2 separate regions of the Homo sapiens genome follow, and region 2 is linked to region 1. Evidence: fine-mapped expression QTL. Tissue or cell type: whole blood. Region 1 holds a variant in brackets; the other region holds the start of a gene. All regions are shown on one strand. Distances are from middle to middle.

Evidence for each region. PIP is the estimated chance that this variant, and not a neighbour inherited with it, causes the effect.
Region 2: it holds the start of MAK, and the variant in region 1 is fine-mapped to the expression of MAK in whole blood (TOPMed, PIP above 0.99).

Annotation. Positions count from the first base shown.
Region 1 is chr6:10,752,256-10,760,361 of GRCh38, forward strand. It overlaps TMEM14B (transmembrane protein 14B), which reads left to right. Exons shown (of 6, transcript NM_030969.5): 5 at 2,887-2,977; 6 at 4,212-4,726. The coding sequence ends at 4,263. It also overlaps the pseudogene RNA5SP203. Among named protein-coding and RNA genes, the nearest start is that of TMEM14B, 8.5 kb to the left of the region's middle. The variant T/C (reference allele first, on the strand shown) is at 3,939.
Region 2 is chr6:10,833,687-10,841,792 of GRCh38, forward strand. It overlaps MAK (male germ cell associated kinase), which reads right to left and starts at 4,853. Exons shown (of 15, transcript NM_001242957.3): 1 at 4,817-4,853. RefSeq lists a silencer at 4,916-5,045 and enhancers at 5,266-5,325, 5,376-5,535.

The DNA.
Region 1 (8,106 bases):
TCTCCAAGCCTCCCCTCGTCCTGTTTCCCTCCTTTCCAACACCAGTGTCTTCCTCTGGGCTTTGGGTGTCTTCTCCCTGACCGTCTCCAGACCTTTACACTGGCCAGGATCCTGTCTTGTATTTGTATTCCTCCTTTTAGGTGGATCCCCGCATTGATATTCAGATGTGCTTGTCTCCTTCCCCTTCATAAACTACCTTTTTTTTTTTTTTTTTTTTTTGAGACGGAGTCTCACTGTGTTGCCCAGGCTAGAGTGCAGTGGCGCGGTCTTGGCTCACTGCAACCTCCGCCTCTTGGATTCAAGTGGTTCTCCTGCCTCAGCCTTCTAGGTAGTTGGGATTACAGGTGTCTCCCACCATGTCAGGCTAACGTTTGCATTTTTAGCAGGTGCAGGGTTTTTGCCATGTTGTCTGGGCTGGTTTGGAACGCCTGACCTCAGGTGATCTGCCCACCTTGGACTCCCGAAGTGCTGGGATTACAGCCATGAGGCAGCACGCCCAGCCAAGAGGGAAAGAGGGAGGGAGTGGGAGGCCAAAAGCCTACAGCACCTGGTGTTTCCCCGAAGGTGGGGTGGTAGTCTCCCATCCAAGTACCATGCAGGACCGGACCGACCCTGCTTTGCTTCTGGGATCAGACAAGATCTAGCACATTCAGGGTGGTATGGCGGTAGACCACAAACTTCTTAAAGATCATTTATGCAGCTGGGCGCGGTGGCTCACTCGTATAATCCCAGCACTTTGGGAGACCGAGGCAGGCGGCTCACCTGAGGTCGGGAGTTGGAGACCAGTCTGACCAACTTGGAGAAAGCCCCATCTCTACTAAAAATACAAAATTAGCCGGGCTTGGTGGCTGTCACCTGTAATCCCAGCCACTCAGGAGGTTGAGGCAGGAGAATCGCTTGAACCCGGGAAGTGGAGGTCGCGGTGAGCCGAGATGACGCCACTGCACTCCAGCCTGGGCAACAAGAGCGAAACTCCGTTTCAAAAAATAAAGATCATTTATGCCTCCTCTCCCATCACACATGATCAGCCCATTTCAGTCTCTGTTTCTGTCCCTGTGTTTGTGGAATAGCTCTCCCTGAGGCTGCCAGTGACCTGTGTTTGTACAAAATCCAATGTACATTTTTCAGTCCTCATTTTACTTGGCCATTTAGCAGTTCTCAGCACGGTTGACCAATCATTTTCCATTCTCCTGGTTTCCCTTTTTATCCTCTCATTCTCTTTTGGCAACCTATTTTCCTTTTTGGCCACTAGATATTGAAGTTCTTCAGGCTCTTCTTGTCTACTCACTTGACAGTTTCATTGAAGCCTATGCCTTTAATTTCCACCGATACACAAATGACACAAATTTCTCTCTCCTCCAGGCTGGACTCTCATGTATTCATCTGTCCACTTTCCTTCAGATGTCTCCAGGAATCTGCCCGGACCTAACCTCATGGCCACACACTCCCCCTGTCTTCTGTTCTCCATCCATTCGGTTCTTGATTGCTCTCTTTCCTTTCTACCACCCCCTTTCTGACTAATTCATCAGCAGGTCTTGTCGACACTACCTCTAGCCCTTATCCTGAGTTGTCCTCTTTTTCATCTGCACAGCCATCGTCCTAGTCCCAGTTATCCCCTCTTTCTTACCTGCATTCCCAAGGACGTTCCTTAGCTGGTATCCCCATGTACCCTCTAGTTTCCCTGAAGTTTGTTCTCTATAGTATAGCTAGAATTACGCTTTCAAAATGCAACTCTGGGCCGGTTGCGGTGGCTCCTGCCTGTAGTCCTAGCACTTTGGGAGGCCAAGGCAGGCGGATTGCCGAGCTCAGGAGTTGGAGACCACCCTGGGCAACATGGTGAAACCCGGTCTCCACTAAAATTAAAAAAGGCTTCAGCATTGCTTGAACCTGGGAGGTAGAGGTTGTAGTGAGCTGAGATCATGCCACTGCACTCCAGCGTGTGTTGCAGAGTGAGACTCTGTCTCAAAAAATAATAATAATAATGCAACTCTTTTTATGCATCCCTCTGCTTAGTATCCTTTAATAGCTTCTCATTGCTCTTATGATGAAAACCCAATCCTTAGTATGGCCTTCAAGGCTCTATGTGGTCTGGCGCCTCTTACTCACAAACTGCATCTTGACTTCTGTGCCACGCTGCCCTTTTAGGGTGAATGTGCCATGCTCCCTGTCACCACAGGGCCTCTGCATATACTGTCCCCTCTGCCTGGAAAGGGCATTCCCATCCTTCAGCTTATTAACGCCTGCTGTAATTTCAGATCTCAGTCAGTCTTCACTTCCTTGGCTAAAAGCCTAGCATGATCTCCCTGAATAGGTTGATCCCCCTGTTGAGCTTTTTTGTGTAGCATCAATTATACCTGAAGCACACATTGTACCTTGTTTTTCTTTGTGTGATTGTTTAAAGTCTTGTCCCATCAGACCTGAAGCATTGTAAAAGGGCAAAGACAGTTACGATTACTTTTGTATTCTCCAGCTCCTAGCACAGCGCTTGACATGTAGTAGGTGCTTTGACAGATACCCAGTGGGAATTGCATGCAGGGTAGAGGAAATAGCGTCTGCAGGGCGATAGCATCTGCAGGGCATGAGAAACAACAGCATTTTGGAGAAAACTAACACATTGATGGCTAAAGTGTGGGTTTTGCAGAAGACAAGTGGTAAGAGATGAGGCTGGAAGGGCAGGTAGGGCCCAGGCTGTGAAGGGCCCTATTTGGCCAGTATTGGTATTTGGACCCATAGGATGTGGGCAGCTAGTAATCTCCCCTACTTGGGGAAGGAGGAATAAGCATAGGATGAGGCGTGAGCCTTGAGAGATTGGTGGGGCTTGGTCTACTTCTGATTCCCCTGCGTAGAAGACTAATGAGTTTTGACCCTTCTTTGTATCTTTTTCAGCCGCTACATCTGTTACTTTTGTTGGTGTTATGGGAATGAGATCCTACTACTATGGAAAATTCATGCCTGTAGGTTTAATTGCAGGTGCCAGGTACTTTCATTCTATTACTCTTCTTTACCATGTAGAGTTCAGTTTATTGCCCAGAATACTTTATGCATTCAAAACCTTACTTGTTTCAGAGTATCTGATGCTATGCATCAACTGACGTTTGACTTATACACTAATAGGAGATGCTTCAAAAACAATAGTTGATTTAATGTCAAATGACATGAGTATATCCATTCACTGTGGAGATGGCTTTGTTCTCTGGTCCTAGCTCCTTCCTATATGGTGGCAGAAGTTTTATTGCAAAGCTATGACTGCAGCCTTTTGTGTGACTTGCGGAGGATGTGTGGGGGTCCCATATTTCTTAGGTGTGTAGGTGTCTTTTGTAGAAAATTTTGCTAAAAGGAAATTTTGATTGAATCCTGTTTTCTAATTTTGATTATAATACCTAAACCAAATTGTGGTTTTTAAAAAATGTAGTTGTAGGCCAGGCACGGTGGCTCACACCTGTAATCCAAGCACAGTGGGAGGCCATGGCGGGCATATCACTTGAGGTCAGGAGTTTGAGACCAGCCTGGCCAACATGGTGAAACTCCTCTCTATGAAAAATACAAAAATTAGGTGGGTGCGGTGGTGCACGCCTGTAATCCCAGCTACTCGGGAGGTCGAGGCAGGAGACTTGCTTGAACTGGGGAGGCGGAGGTTGCAGTAAGTTGAAATCGTGCTGCTGCACTGCAGCCTGGGCAACAATGAGTGAGAGTCTGTCTCAAAAAAAAAAAAAAGTTCACTTGTTAAGTATGATAAAGACATCCTGAAGGCAGGGGAATTTTTAAAATCCTGTTTTCAAGAAAGATTACATACTCTACTCTGATCATAGTCGTGATGCTGCCAGTATAATATTTTATACCTGAAGCAAAAGAGTCAGTATGGAGCAAGGTCTAGAACAGTAAACTGAGAGGCTGGAGTCTACCATAAATCAGATCTGTGATGGTGGGGAGGCCTTGCT[T/C]TCTCTTGCCTCCATTTCTTCATCTCTTCAAATTACTGGCAGTTGGATTAGGATCTAGCTCATGTGTGCTATTTTAAGACCTCAGTGAAACTGTCCCTTGGCTTGCTTTTTCTCTGGTTCCCCCAGGGATGGAAATTTTACCTCTGACCACTCTTGCCTTAGTACCTCCTCCCCCACACAGTTGTGAGGAACCTGCAGAGTTTAGTTCCTTAAAAACATAGTTGCCTGTTCTATCCTTTACCTGATGTTTTCTATCTTACTTGTTTTAAACAGTTTGCTGATGGCCGCCAAAGTTGGAGTTCGTATGTTGATGACATCTGATTAGCAGAAGTCATGTTCCAGCTTGGACTCATGAAGGATTAAAAATCTGCATCTTCCACTATTTTCAATGTATTAAGAGAAATAAGTGCAGCATTTTTGCATCTGACATTTTACCTAAAAAAAAAAAGACACCAAATTTGGCGGAGGGGTGGAAAATCAGTTGTTACCATTATAACCCTACAGAGGTGGTGAGCATGTAACATGAGCTTATTGAGACCATCATAGAGATCGATTCTTGTATATTGATTTTATCTCTTTCTGTATCTATAGGTAAATCTCAAGGGTAAAATGTTAGGTGTTGACATTGAGAACCCTGAAACCCCATTCCCTGCTCAGAGGAACAGTGTGAAAAAAAATCTCTTGAGAGATTTAGAATATCTTTTCTTTTGCTCATCTTAGACCACAGACTGACTTTGAAATTATGTTAAGTGAAATATCAATGAAAATAAAGTTTACTATAAATAATATTTCCTATGGTGTCTTCATTGCCAGAGCTGGTCTAGTTCATAGAATGAGATGTTGCTAGATATAGAAACTTGAAAGTATTTTGTTGATATTTAGAAATTACCTATTTTGAGTAATTTAAGGACCAAGGAAAGTTATTTGATTGTACATTGCATTGAAGCTTGTTTCAAAAATGATCTCTGAGGATTTTTTTGTTTGTTTTTTAAGAGACAGGGTCTTTCTCTGTCACCTAGGCTGGAGGGCAGTGGTACAATCATATCTCACTGTAGCCTCAAACTCTTGGGTTCAGTCATCCCACTTCAGCCTCCTGAATAGCTGGTACTACTGGTGCATACCACCTCGCTAATTTATTTTATTTTTTTGTAGAGATGGGGTCTTGCTCTGTTGCTCAGGCTGCTATCAAACTCCTGGTCTCATGCGATTCTCTCTCCTTGGCCTCCCAAAGTGCTGGGGTAATGAGCATGGCCACTGAGGATTTCTAAGATTTAGGACTGTGTAGCAAAAAAAGAAGAAGAAAAAAAGTGGTTTTTTTTGTTAATTAGTTCATATATAATTGTGAAACTAGAAGACCCATCTAGAGCTTGAATCACCTAGTTTGGGCTCTACATTGGACACATTTACTGGATACTGGTACGTTTTTAGTTCACTTTATTCATGTTTCAACATGAAGAATTAACTCAATCTGGTGCCCTTTGTTTTAGTTTTCATTCCCTCTTTAAAAAGGTAAGGAGCTGGGCGCGGTGGCTCACGCCTGTAGTGCCAACACTTTGGGAGGCCGAGATGGGTGGATCACCTGAGGTCAGGAGTTTGAGACCAGCCTGGCCAACATGGTGAAACCCTGTCTCTACTAAAAATTCAAAAATTAGCTGGGTGTGGTGGCTCATGCCTGTAATCCCAGCTATTCAGGAGGCTGAGGCAGGAGAATTGCTTGAACCCAGGAGGCTGTGGTTGCAGCGAGCCGAGATCACGCCACTGCACTCCAACCTGGGCGACAGGGTGAGACTCTGTCTCAAAAAAAAAAAAAAAGATATTTGCTACTGATTTACCCTAACTGATACTGGTTGAGTTTAGAGTATAATTCAGACACTTTATGTATTTGCATAAGCCCCTGGATGGTGGTCCTAGTTTTCCATCCTTTTTTATAGGACTCTGGACAATTAAGGGCTCTTGTGTTGCAGTGGTAGAGGCATCAGAAGGCCACAGATCATCCAAAGCTATCATCCTCCCAGGCTTCCATAGCTAAGATTTTGAGTCTCAACGTTGGCCATTTTTTCATGTGTCATGGAGTGTTTCCAAAGGGCACACATTTTTGCCACCTTCAGTCCTAGAGGAGGACCTGGCTCCTCATGAATGACAAGGTTCCCTGAATGTGGGAATTAGTTTAGGTGCCAAGTAGATCCCCATGTGACTATTTGATCCCCAGCAATCAGCCTGGAAAATTCTAAGGCTGCCCACAGATGAGAGGCAGGAGATCTTCATAGCCCTTGCCAAGTGCCCTCATCCCTGCTTCTCTGCAAAGATCCCTGAGTATTTACTGCCTAAGGGTTGTGCTGGGTCCTAGCAGTGCAAAGAACAAGCCATGGTGCTTGCCCTTCTGGAGTCTGGTGGAGGAGGTGGACATCTAAACAAAGGCAGTATAGAAATAAGTGTATGATGGAGGTAGATCCATATTACTGTGGGGGCACAAGGAGGGGAGTGGGCATTTCTGTTGAGGGAGTCAAGGTAGGCTTCACAAAGGAACCAACAGTTAAGCTGAGTCTTGTCAGTTGATGCATGAATCAGTTGACATGAACTCCTTTTGTGAGTTGTCTGAGAAATTCATAGGTAAGGACGGGGCAAATGTCTCAGAGCGAGCAATATATACAGTGCCTCAAAGGCATGAAACTATGTAGCATAACTGGGTTCAACCCTTTCCTTAGAGATCTAATTCTTTTTTTTTTTTTTTTTTTTTTTTTTGAGATGGAGTATGGCTCTTGTTGCCCAAGCTGGGGTGCAATGGTGCGATCTCAGCTCATTGCAACCTCCACCTCCCAGGTTCAAGCGATTCTCCTGCCTTACCCTCCTGAGTAGCTGGGATTTCAGGTGTGCACCACCACACCCAGCTAATTTTTTGTATTTTTAGTAGAGATGGGGTTTCACCATGTTGGCCAGGCTGGTCTTGAACTGACCTCAGGTGATCCACCTGTCTTGCCTCCCAAAGTGCTGGAATTACAGGCATGAGCCACCGCACCAGGCCAAGATCTAATTCTTTTTAATGGCTTTTAAGTTGTACGGATGATTACTATTTAGTTTACTATTCCCCTACTGATAGAAATATGTCTTGTTTAATGCCTTTGATAGCCGGGAGCAGTGGCTCATGCTTGTAATCCCAACACTTTGGGAGGCTGAGGTGGGCAGATCCCCTGAGGCCTTTGATATTACAAAGGATGGTGTACCAAGAAATATCCTCATGGAAATCCCCGTGAACATGTGCAAAGGAATCTGTAGGTTACATTCCTAAATGCTGAGTCAGAGCATCTCAGCATTTAAAATTGTGATTGCCTTCAGAAGAGGATGCACCAATTTATCCTCCCACTAGTGGTGGCTTTGTGTAATTGGACTTTGTAAAAATCTTTGACACATTAAGCTGGAAGTCTGCAAACTTGTTCTGTAAAGGGCCAGATAGTGAATATTTTAGGCTTCTCAGGCCATCTGTGTCCCAGCTGTTCACCTCTGCCTTTGTAGAATGAAAGCAGCCACAGCCAATCAATAAACGAGTGTGACTGTTCCAATAAAACTATGTATGGGCCCTGAAATCTGGATTTCATATGATTTCTACATATCACAAAATAGTCTTATTTTGATTTTTTTCAACCATTTCAAAATGCAAATCTATTCTTAGCTTGCTCTCTGCACAAAAACAGGCAATGGACTAGAATTGGCTCACTGACCATAGTCATGCCTGTAAGAGTTAAAGAAAGAAGAAAGAAACATGAAACGTGGCTTTGTAGTCAAAGACAGGTTTTCTTTACTTAAAACCTGAGAGGCTTCCCGGCTAATTTCGGTTAGGAGCACTTTCTCTTACAGACCCTGCACTTGATGGATCACCTGGCACCGCCCAAATTGATAAACTGGCTCATCTGATCTTGTGGCCCCCATCCAGGAACTGACTCAGTGCAAGACAACAGCTTGCACTCCCTATGACTTAATCTCCCACCGGACCAGTCAGCACTCCTGAGTCACCTGGCTGCCCCTGGCACACCAAGTAACCCTTAAACACTTCAATCCTTGAATGCTCTGGGAGACTGATTTGAGTACCAATAAAACTCCAGTCTCCTGCACAGCTGGCTCTGCGTGTGCTCTTTCTCTATTGCAATTCCCTGTCTTGATAACTCAGCTCTGT
Region 2 (8,106 bases), 81 kb after region 1:
CCTTCAAAGGCACATATAAAATAATTTAGGCTAGCTAACTCCATGGCCAGGATCTTGAAAAAGAGAACATGACAGCAGATTCCATCTCTATTTAGGGGTTTCTTCCTTTTTGTCAGATTAAGCCCGAGCTAATAATCATAAGTACCAGCAAATGGTTCCCCATTTGCCTGAAAAAGAATAGTTTTGTAAGTCATTGTCACCTTATTCATAGACACTGATTCCAAATATTAAGGTGTTAATATAGAGAAAGGCAGTCTCTCTCTCTGCACGGTTCCTAATCAAAACATGAATTTGCTTTTCTTCATTTTGCCTTTATCTGTATAAGCAAATATAATTTGGAAAAATCTTTTGGGTTGTTTTGTTTTGTACTACGTTAAACAAAACATGGACTAAAATATATTTCTTCTCATTTAGGATTTTATTAAATCAGTATTTTGCAATTTATCACCAGCATATTCAATTGCTGTACACTCTTTTCTAGCTAGCCTATTTAAGGTGACATATATCTATCTCTTTTAGGAAATATGTGATCTCTAGGTTTACTGATTCTTTCTGATTAAGTAAGCATAAAGAGAATATATTTGCACAAAAGGCCATCATGTTCCTTATGACAGTAAGATCATAAAATAAAAACATGGAAGGATTAAATGACCTGTCTAGGATCAACTAGAGAATCAACGATGGAGTCAATCCAATAGTTGCATTTGGCTTGATGTTGTTGGTTTTTCAGGGTCGTCTCCAACTTCTAAACAAGCCATTCTTATGAACTGGTGCCAGCTCTTACTATCCCTAATGAGGCTAAAGAAATCATCCTCTTTGCTCCAAAACCACACAGACTAAGCTCCACAACTCAAGCCACCTACCCCAACCTCCACCTTAAGATTCCTAATGCAGCTCTTCACTCAAACACTAAGATATTGCTGACTACCTGGAAAGTGAAGTGGGACTACTCCATATCCTGACTAAACCCTAATGCTACATCTGGGTCATTCAGACCAGTGAAAAATAACAGAAACAGTGAAGGGAAAGAGTGAGACCTTAGAACTTGAATGGTTAAGGGAGAAAGAATCTAGGTGGTGCTCCTCTCATGAAAATTATTATTATTATTATTATTATTGTTTGAGACAGAGTCTCACTCTGTGCCAGGTCCGACCCGCAGACCCTGGCTGAATGACAGATCAAAGAATGCACTCAGACACAGGTATCCAGTGAAAGAGCGGGCTAGGGGACCGGGCAGCACACAGACCCCAGGAGGGTGCTGTAAACCGTGGCCCTGCTCAGCTGGCGCTGTGGGCATTTATTCAGCACAGATTTAATGACAAAGGCTTTGAGTTAACACACTTGTGGGTAATTAACATGGTCGCACCGCTCCCCCGCCCCACGCAGTCCTGCGTCTGGATGATTAAAGGCCAGGTTCTGAGGCCTAAGTAAACTAACTTATCTAGATTAGTTTCTTTACATCCCCTTGTTATCTAACCTAAGCTCTTAAGAGAATTCAGCTGCCTTCAGCCAAATTTTCTTTTGAAGCTTTGCAAACCCCTGGCCTTCCAAGAAGGTTTGCATCTTTCTACGATTTTTCCCACCACCCTGACCAATCTCCTACAGCTCGGATGCCCAGGCTGGAGTGTGGTGGCGTTATCTCTGCTCACTGCAACCTCCGCCTCCCAGGTTCAAGGGACTCTCCTGCCTCAGCCTCCTGAGTAGCTGGGATTACAGGCGCGTGCCACCATGCCCGGCTAATTTCTGTATTTTTAGTAGAGACAGGGTTTTACCACGTTGGCCAGGCTGGTCTTGAACTCCTGACCTCATGTGATCCACCTGCCTCGGCCTCCCAAAGTGCTGGGGTTTATAGGCGTGAGCCACTGCGCCCAGCCATGAAAATTATTTAATTCAGAAACATAATGGTATGATAGCATCATCTTTTCTTTTAACCAAATTATTTTCATGTTAACACCTAACCAAGGACAAGCATTTGAGGGTCTAAAAGGTAGAAAAGTAATGCAGACAATTCTGAAAAAGGACATATGACTTGAGAAGGGAATGGAAGAGGGAGCTGCCTCTGGTTGCATGGTAATGATGGTAGCGAGTGTTATTCAGGAAGTGGAAACACAAAGAGTGACAAAAAAATCACCTTCATTGGCCCAACAATCTAAAAATTAAGAATTAATTACACCTCTCTCTTCCACTATTAAGGCCATCAGCCACCCCCATCACCACCGCCCTGGGGTGGGAGGGTGACCTGAAGCTGCACCAGCACTATCAGCACAATAGAGCATTCAGTCACTGATGACTTTCGACCCAAGCCTGCGTGCACAGTCTCTTTGCGAGTGGCTATTTTGGCAACTTCATTCCAAGCCTAACCAATCAACTTCTGAATAAACACCGGCAACACCAATTGTCTTTCAACGGATGATGGCTATAGGATAGGGTGTACTTATATTGAGGGAAGAATAAGCAAGGAACACGACCATTTCCCAGCTCCTTTCTGTTTGAGGGGTGGAGTGTTGAGGATTACGGACGTGACATAGATTTTTAAAAGGTCAGATTAGTGGTTCTGTGAGGATCTGTCCCATTTAAGCCCTACCTAACCTTTAAGTAAAACAACTTTACATACTGCGCTCCCTAAGAAAAAACTTTGGAAAGGCTTCTTTTGAACTACATTAATTACAAAATCAACAGCTGCCCAGGGTGAGACGCTGATCATTGCAACTGTTCCTTCTATCCCCTGAACATACAATTGTCTAATGTAGAGACATAGACATCAAGGTAAAGCTTTTAAAAAATCATTATTCCATGTCCCTGCTCCCTGATAGCACATAAGCAACTACTTTTATCAATGTGGCATAGCAACTACTGATTACTAATCAAAAAGCAGTCTATGTTCCTTAAACACAGGCTTCCCATGGTTCTCCAGTTCACGCACAATAATATTTCTCTACAAGTTACATATATTCTTCTCTGTTGACCTATGGAAAACTAATCTACAAAATAGGAATATATTAACACAGTTTCTTATGTACATGAATATATATAGATATGATACATATGCAACAAAAAACCCAAGTAAATATAACTATCATCCTCAATTTAACAGAATTGTTAAAAACTTGGAATTTTCTACAATCAAGCTATAACATTTATTGACCTTCCTATGGGTTAAAGAAAAAGATGCTTATTTAGAGGCTTAATTATAGACCTACACAAAAATAAATACCCTTATAATTTATCTCTCATTCTAGTTTTCAACTTTTTAATCTAAGTTCATAATTACCGTTTCTCTAAGTGCACAATTGTTGTAAATATAGCCTTTACTCTCAACAGCTTTTGCCAGCTAATAAGAGATTCAGATAGGATTAAAGAAGATTAGCAAAGAGGGCAAATGAAGGGTAAAACAAGCGTCTGCCAAAAACTGAAGAGATAAGGCTTGGATGTCTTCAACGTGGCTTTCTAGAACATATTATGTCACTCCGAGGCTGGCTTAACGCTTCTAATACACAACAAAAGAGTAATTAACGTTTTAAAAGTCACCAAACTCTTTAAAAAGCAACGCAGGAAAAAAAGATCCCAAACTAACCAAGTCGAAGTTTTACAGAAATTAAATGAGCTATTACAATGGGAAAACAAAGACTGTATCTTAAAATATAAAAGCACAGTTCTCTGTGCTCATATTCACAAATTATTTCAAAGCTTATACACAAAAAAAGTCCACCCCGACGAAGAGATTAAACGTCCTGCCCGGTGCCTGCAGTGGAAGCAGGCGGTGGCGCGGTTGGGGGAACTTTCTCCCTCCCGGTCAAGCCTCGGGAATTGAAGGGCCGGGGAGGCGGGGCCCGATCGAAAAGCTGGAAAGTCACTTTTGTTTTCACCATTATTTCACTTAATGGGTTGTGTTTCTGAATAAATAAAGTCAGATAACTTTGGCTTCCCTCTTTGAGAATTCCGTTATCATTAGAACAAATGTCTGTTTCTTTTAAACGATTATCTAACCACATTTGCATACAGCTCTTTCCTTGTAGGATTGAGATTACTAACCACTAAAAACCAGTTTTATTGCTCTCGACACCGCACTCTCGACCTGTCCCTAAATTAAAACGGATTACTTGCAGAAAAGGGACAGTTTTCGTCACACACTTTCTGATCCGACTCTGCAAACCAGGGCTCTTAAAAGGCTCCAGGGACCGCGTGGTGGAAGGAGGGGGCGTCCCCGGGCGCCGGGAGTCCGGCGCCGTTGGGGGGGACGGGGGTGTGCGGAATTCCACTTTCACCTGAGCGTCCTTTGGGATGCACCAGCGAGGGCTGGAGTCGGACCTAATTCCTGTTTTTCTCCCTCCTTTTAGATTTTGCAACAGTTCTGAACTCAGTTCCGCTGCCTCCCTGAGACCCAATCCTGCCTCTCTGTCCTAAAAACAGTTTCCACCGCCAGCCCAAGCAGCAGGGGAGCAGAGGTGGGAGATCCCGGAGGAGAGTTTAGGGGCGGGGGTCTCAGGCTAAGGGACGCCCGGCCGTCATCCTCCCACGCCAGGCCGGCCCCCGCGGTCCAGGAGGCGGGAAAGTGGTCAAGAGGTCTGGGAGACACCGACCGCCTTCCCTCGGGCTGACCACTCCCGCCCGCTCCGCCCCTCCGGGGACCCTCCTCCCTCCAGTCCTTCCCCTACCGGCGTCAGGGACCGGTCTCCGGGCGGAGATTGGCCCTGGTAGCACAGGGCGCCGAGGGGACATGCCCGGCCAGCCTCGCAGGTCGGGCTCCGGCTGGGTCGGACAGAGGGTGGTGGCCCTGCAGCCCGCTGGGGATTACCTGTCCGCGCCTGCTGCTTACCTCGTTCGCTCCCTTGTGAAGCTCCGGCGTCTTGTGTGTTTCATCTCCTAGGAAACGGCGGGGGCAGCAGGCGGGCCTACGGCCGGCCCAGAGAGGGCGTGGCCTCGCGGGAAATCCCCGCCAATTCCCGCAGGCCCCGCCTTCCCCGGGGCGGGGCTTCATGGAGCCGGGGGACTGTCGGCTGAGCTGCAGCAAGTGTGCCATTTAGACTTGGGGTTTAGGGGAGTTGATTACCTTTTCAGTCAGGTCTTTGTCAGAAGTTGGTTTGTTTGCCCTTTATTTTGTTTTGGTTTTGTTCCGATTCATTCTACAAAGTCTTGATTAATTAAAATATGGTTCCCAGACCGGGCAGAGCAAGAGAAGGAAGTCTGTTTGCCTCATACTTGCACTTGTTTACTTGTGCCTGGGGAAAAACTGTTCTTGTATGCAGTTCCTTAAATTGGTCAATTCCTTGGGTATGTATTACCTCTTGAGCTGCCCTTCTAAGTTTGTTTCCATTTATTCATTCAGAGAACCTGCCTAGTATCAGCCACAGAGTTAGATAGTGGTAATTCCAAGAAAAATGACTGAATGTGTGAATAAATGGGTAAATTGTAACTAGTCTAGAATTTAGAGAGGAAGGCACACTTGTGTTACTGCAAATAGTTCAGATTGGCTGGCAAAAAGGGTCTACGAAACAGAAACATAAGTGATGAAGCAGTGGTGCGGCAAGTTAGTAATTATTAGGTGTCAGGATGTGGGCTTGGGACCAAGAATAGCGCCAAGGTAGACACGACAGACATGCCTGTGGCCCTCACAGCTTAAAGTGAAGTAGGCTTTCACGCGTATGTTTATGGCAGCACAATTCACAATTGCAAAGATGTGGAACCAATCTAAGTGCCCATTGACTAATGAGTGGATAAAGAAAATGTGGTATATATACACCATAGGCTGCTACTCAGTCACAAAAAAAGAATGAAATAATGTCTTTTGCAACAACTTGGAAGAGTGGGAGGTCCTTATTCTACGCAAAGTAATACAGGCGTGGAAAACCAAAAACTGTATGTTCTCACTTATAAGCAAAAGCCAAGCTATGAGTATGCAAAGGCATACACAGTGAAATAATGGACTTTGGAGACTCAGAAAGGGGAGGATGGGAGAGAGCCTAGGGATAAAAAAAACTATGCACTAGGTACCATATACACTACTCAGATGATGGGTGCACTAAAATCTCAGAATTCACCACTATATAATTCATCTATGTAACAAAAAACCACTTGTACCCCAAGAGCTATTGAAATAAACATTTAAAAACAGACGGGGCTCAGTGGCTCATGCCTGTAATCCCAGCACTTTGGGAGGCCCAGGTGAGTGGCTCACCTGAGGTCAGGAGTTCAAGACCAGCCTGGCCAACATGGTGAAACCCCATCTCTACTAAAAATACAAAAAATATCTGGGTGTGGTGGCACATGCCTGTAATCCCAGCTACTCGGGAGGCTGAGGCAGGAGAATCACTTGAACCCAGGAGGCAGAGGTTGCAGTGAGCGGAGAACGTGCCACTGCACTCCAGCCTGGGTGACTGAGCAAGACTCTGTCTCAAAATAATAATAATAATAAATGGCCAGGCGCGGTGGCTCATGCCTGTAATCCCAGCACTTTGGGAGGCCGAGGTGGGCGGATCACCTGAGGTCGGGAGTTTGAGACCAGTCTGACCAACCTGGAGAAACCCCATCTCTACTAAAATGCTAAAACTACAAAAAATTAGCCAGGCGTGGTGGCGCATGCCTGTAATCCCAGCTACTTGGGAGGCTGAGGTAGGAGAATAGCTTGAACCCAGGAGGCGGAGGTTGCAGTGAGCTGAGATCACACCATTGCACTCCAGCCTGGGCAGCAAAAGCAAAACTCCGTCTCAATAATAATAATAATAAATAAAAGATTCATTGCTCTCCAATAAATAAGTGAAGTAGGCAGGCAAAGTAAAAAGCATAAGTTAGATAGGTCATAGCAGCTTTATATACCCAGTTATGAAGCCTAAGCTTTAACATGTGTCAATGAGGAAGACCAGTGAAGAATCTCCCACAGAAGAGTGACATGTTCACATTTGCATTTCAGAAAGATCCCAAGAGGAGCAGTGGGTAGGGTGGATTTGAGCTGCAAGTCTGGAGGCAAGAGAAAGATTGGGAGTCTTTCTCCCAACTGACTGGGAAGAAATGATAAGGATCCAACTCTAGCAGTGATGATGGAAATAGGACAGAGAAAGACAGAATTCAAGGGATGTTTAGGAGTTAAAATCGGCAGGACCATCAGGCTTAGATGACTGGTGGATAGTGGTATCCATGACCAAGTTGGAAAATAATAGAGGAGGAGCTGATTTAGGGATGGAGGATGTGAGAGATAACAAGCCCAGTTTTGAAATTTTTGAATTGAGAAAAATCCTTATGCAGATTACAAGAAGGGAGTTTGTAATATAGATTTGCAACTTAGGGTTCTTTTAGAGCTAGAAATACAGATATGTTGGGATACTGTGGATGAAATCATGGATATAGATGAAATAAACAGTAAGAAGAAAGAAGGGATGGGATTCTGGAAAACTCCATCCTCTAAAGAGTGGAGAAAGAAAGAGTAGGGGTGAGGAAGAGACAGACTGAAAAAAGAAAAGTCAGGGAAGTAGTAGGAGATCCCTCAGAAAAATGATATTTCAGAATGAGGAAAGGTAGGTTTCCCAAAAGAAAGAGAAAGAGAAAGGAAGGAAGGAAAGAGAGAGAAAACAAAAAGAGGACAAACAGCATTTATTCCTTCTGAAGAACTCTTCTGTTTTAAAACAAGTAGAGCATGCACAAAACATATTTTTTGTCACGTTTCACAATAGAAGAATAAAAATTCTCCAAGCACTCCTAACCCCTTCTAAAAAGTACCTAATATCTGAGCAGAGCAGTGAACGTACCTGAAAGGCAAAGGTGGCCCAAAGGCAAATCCCATTTCAGCATTTCAACCAGCTGACGAAGCCTTGGACCCGTGGCAATAGGGCTGAGCTGGACCAGGGACTAGAAAATCAACCAGGGGAGCTTAGAAGGGGTCAAAGTGGTCCCAGGTCAGGAGCATCATCTGGATCCCAAAGGAAACAAACACAATCATCTCTGAAGAAGGCATCCTCAACTTAGGCCTCTAGGTTTTTCAAAAAATATGAGCTCATGACCACAGAGGAATGAACACCGTCAAATGAGAATCTAGAAAAAGCAACAATTATTCAGACTTTCCAGGATTTCTGAAATTGGAAAAATCAGCTTGAATACAAAATAGCTATGTATGAA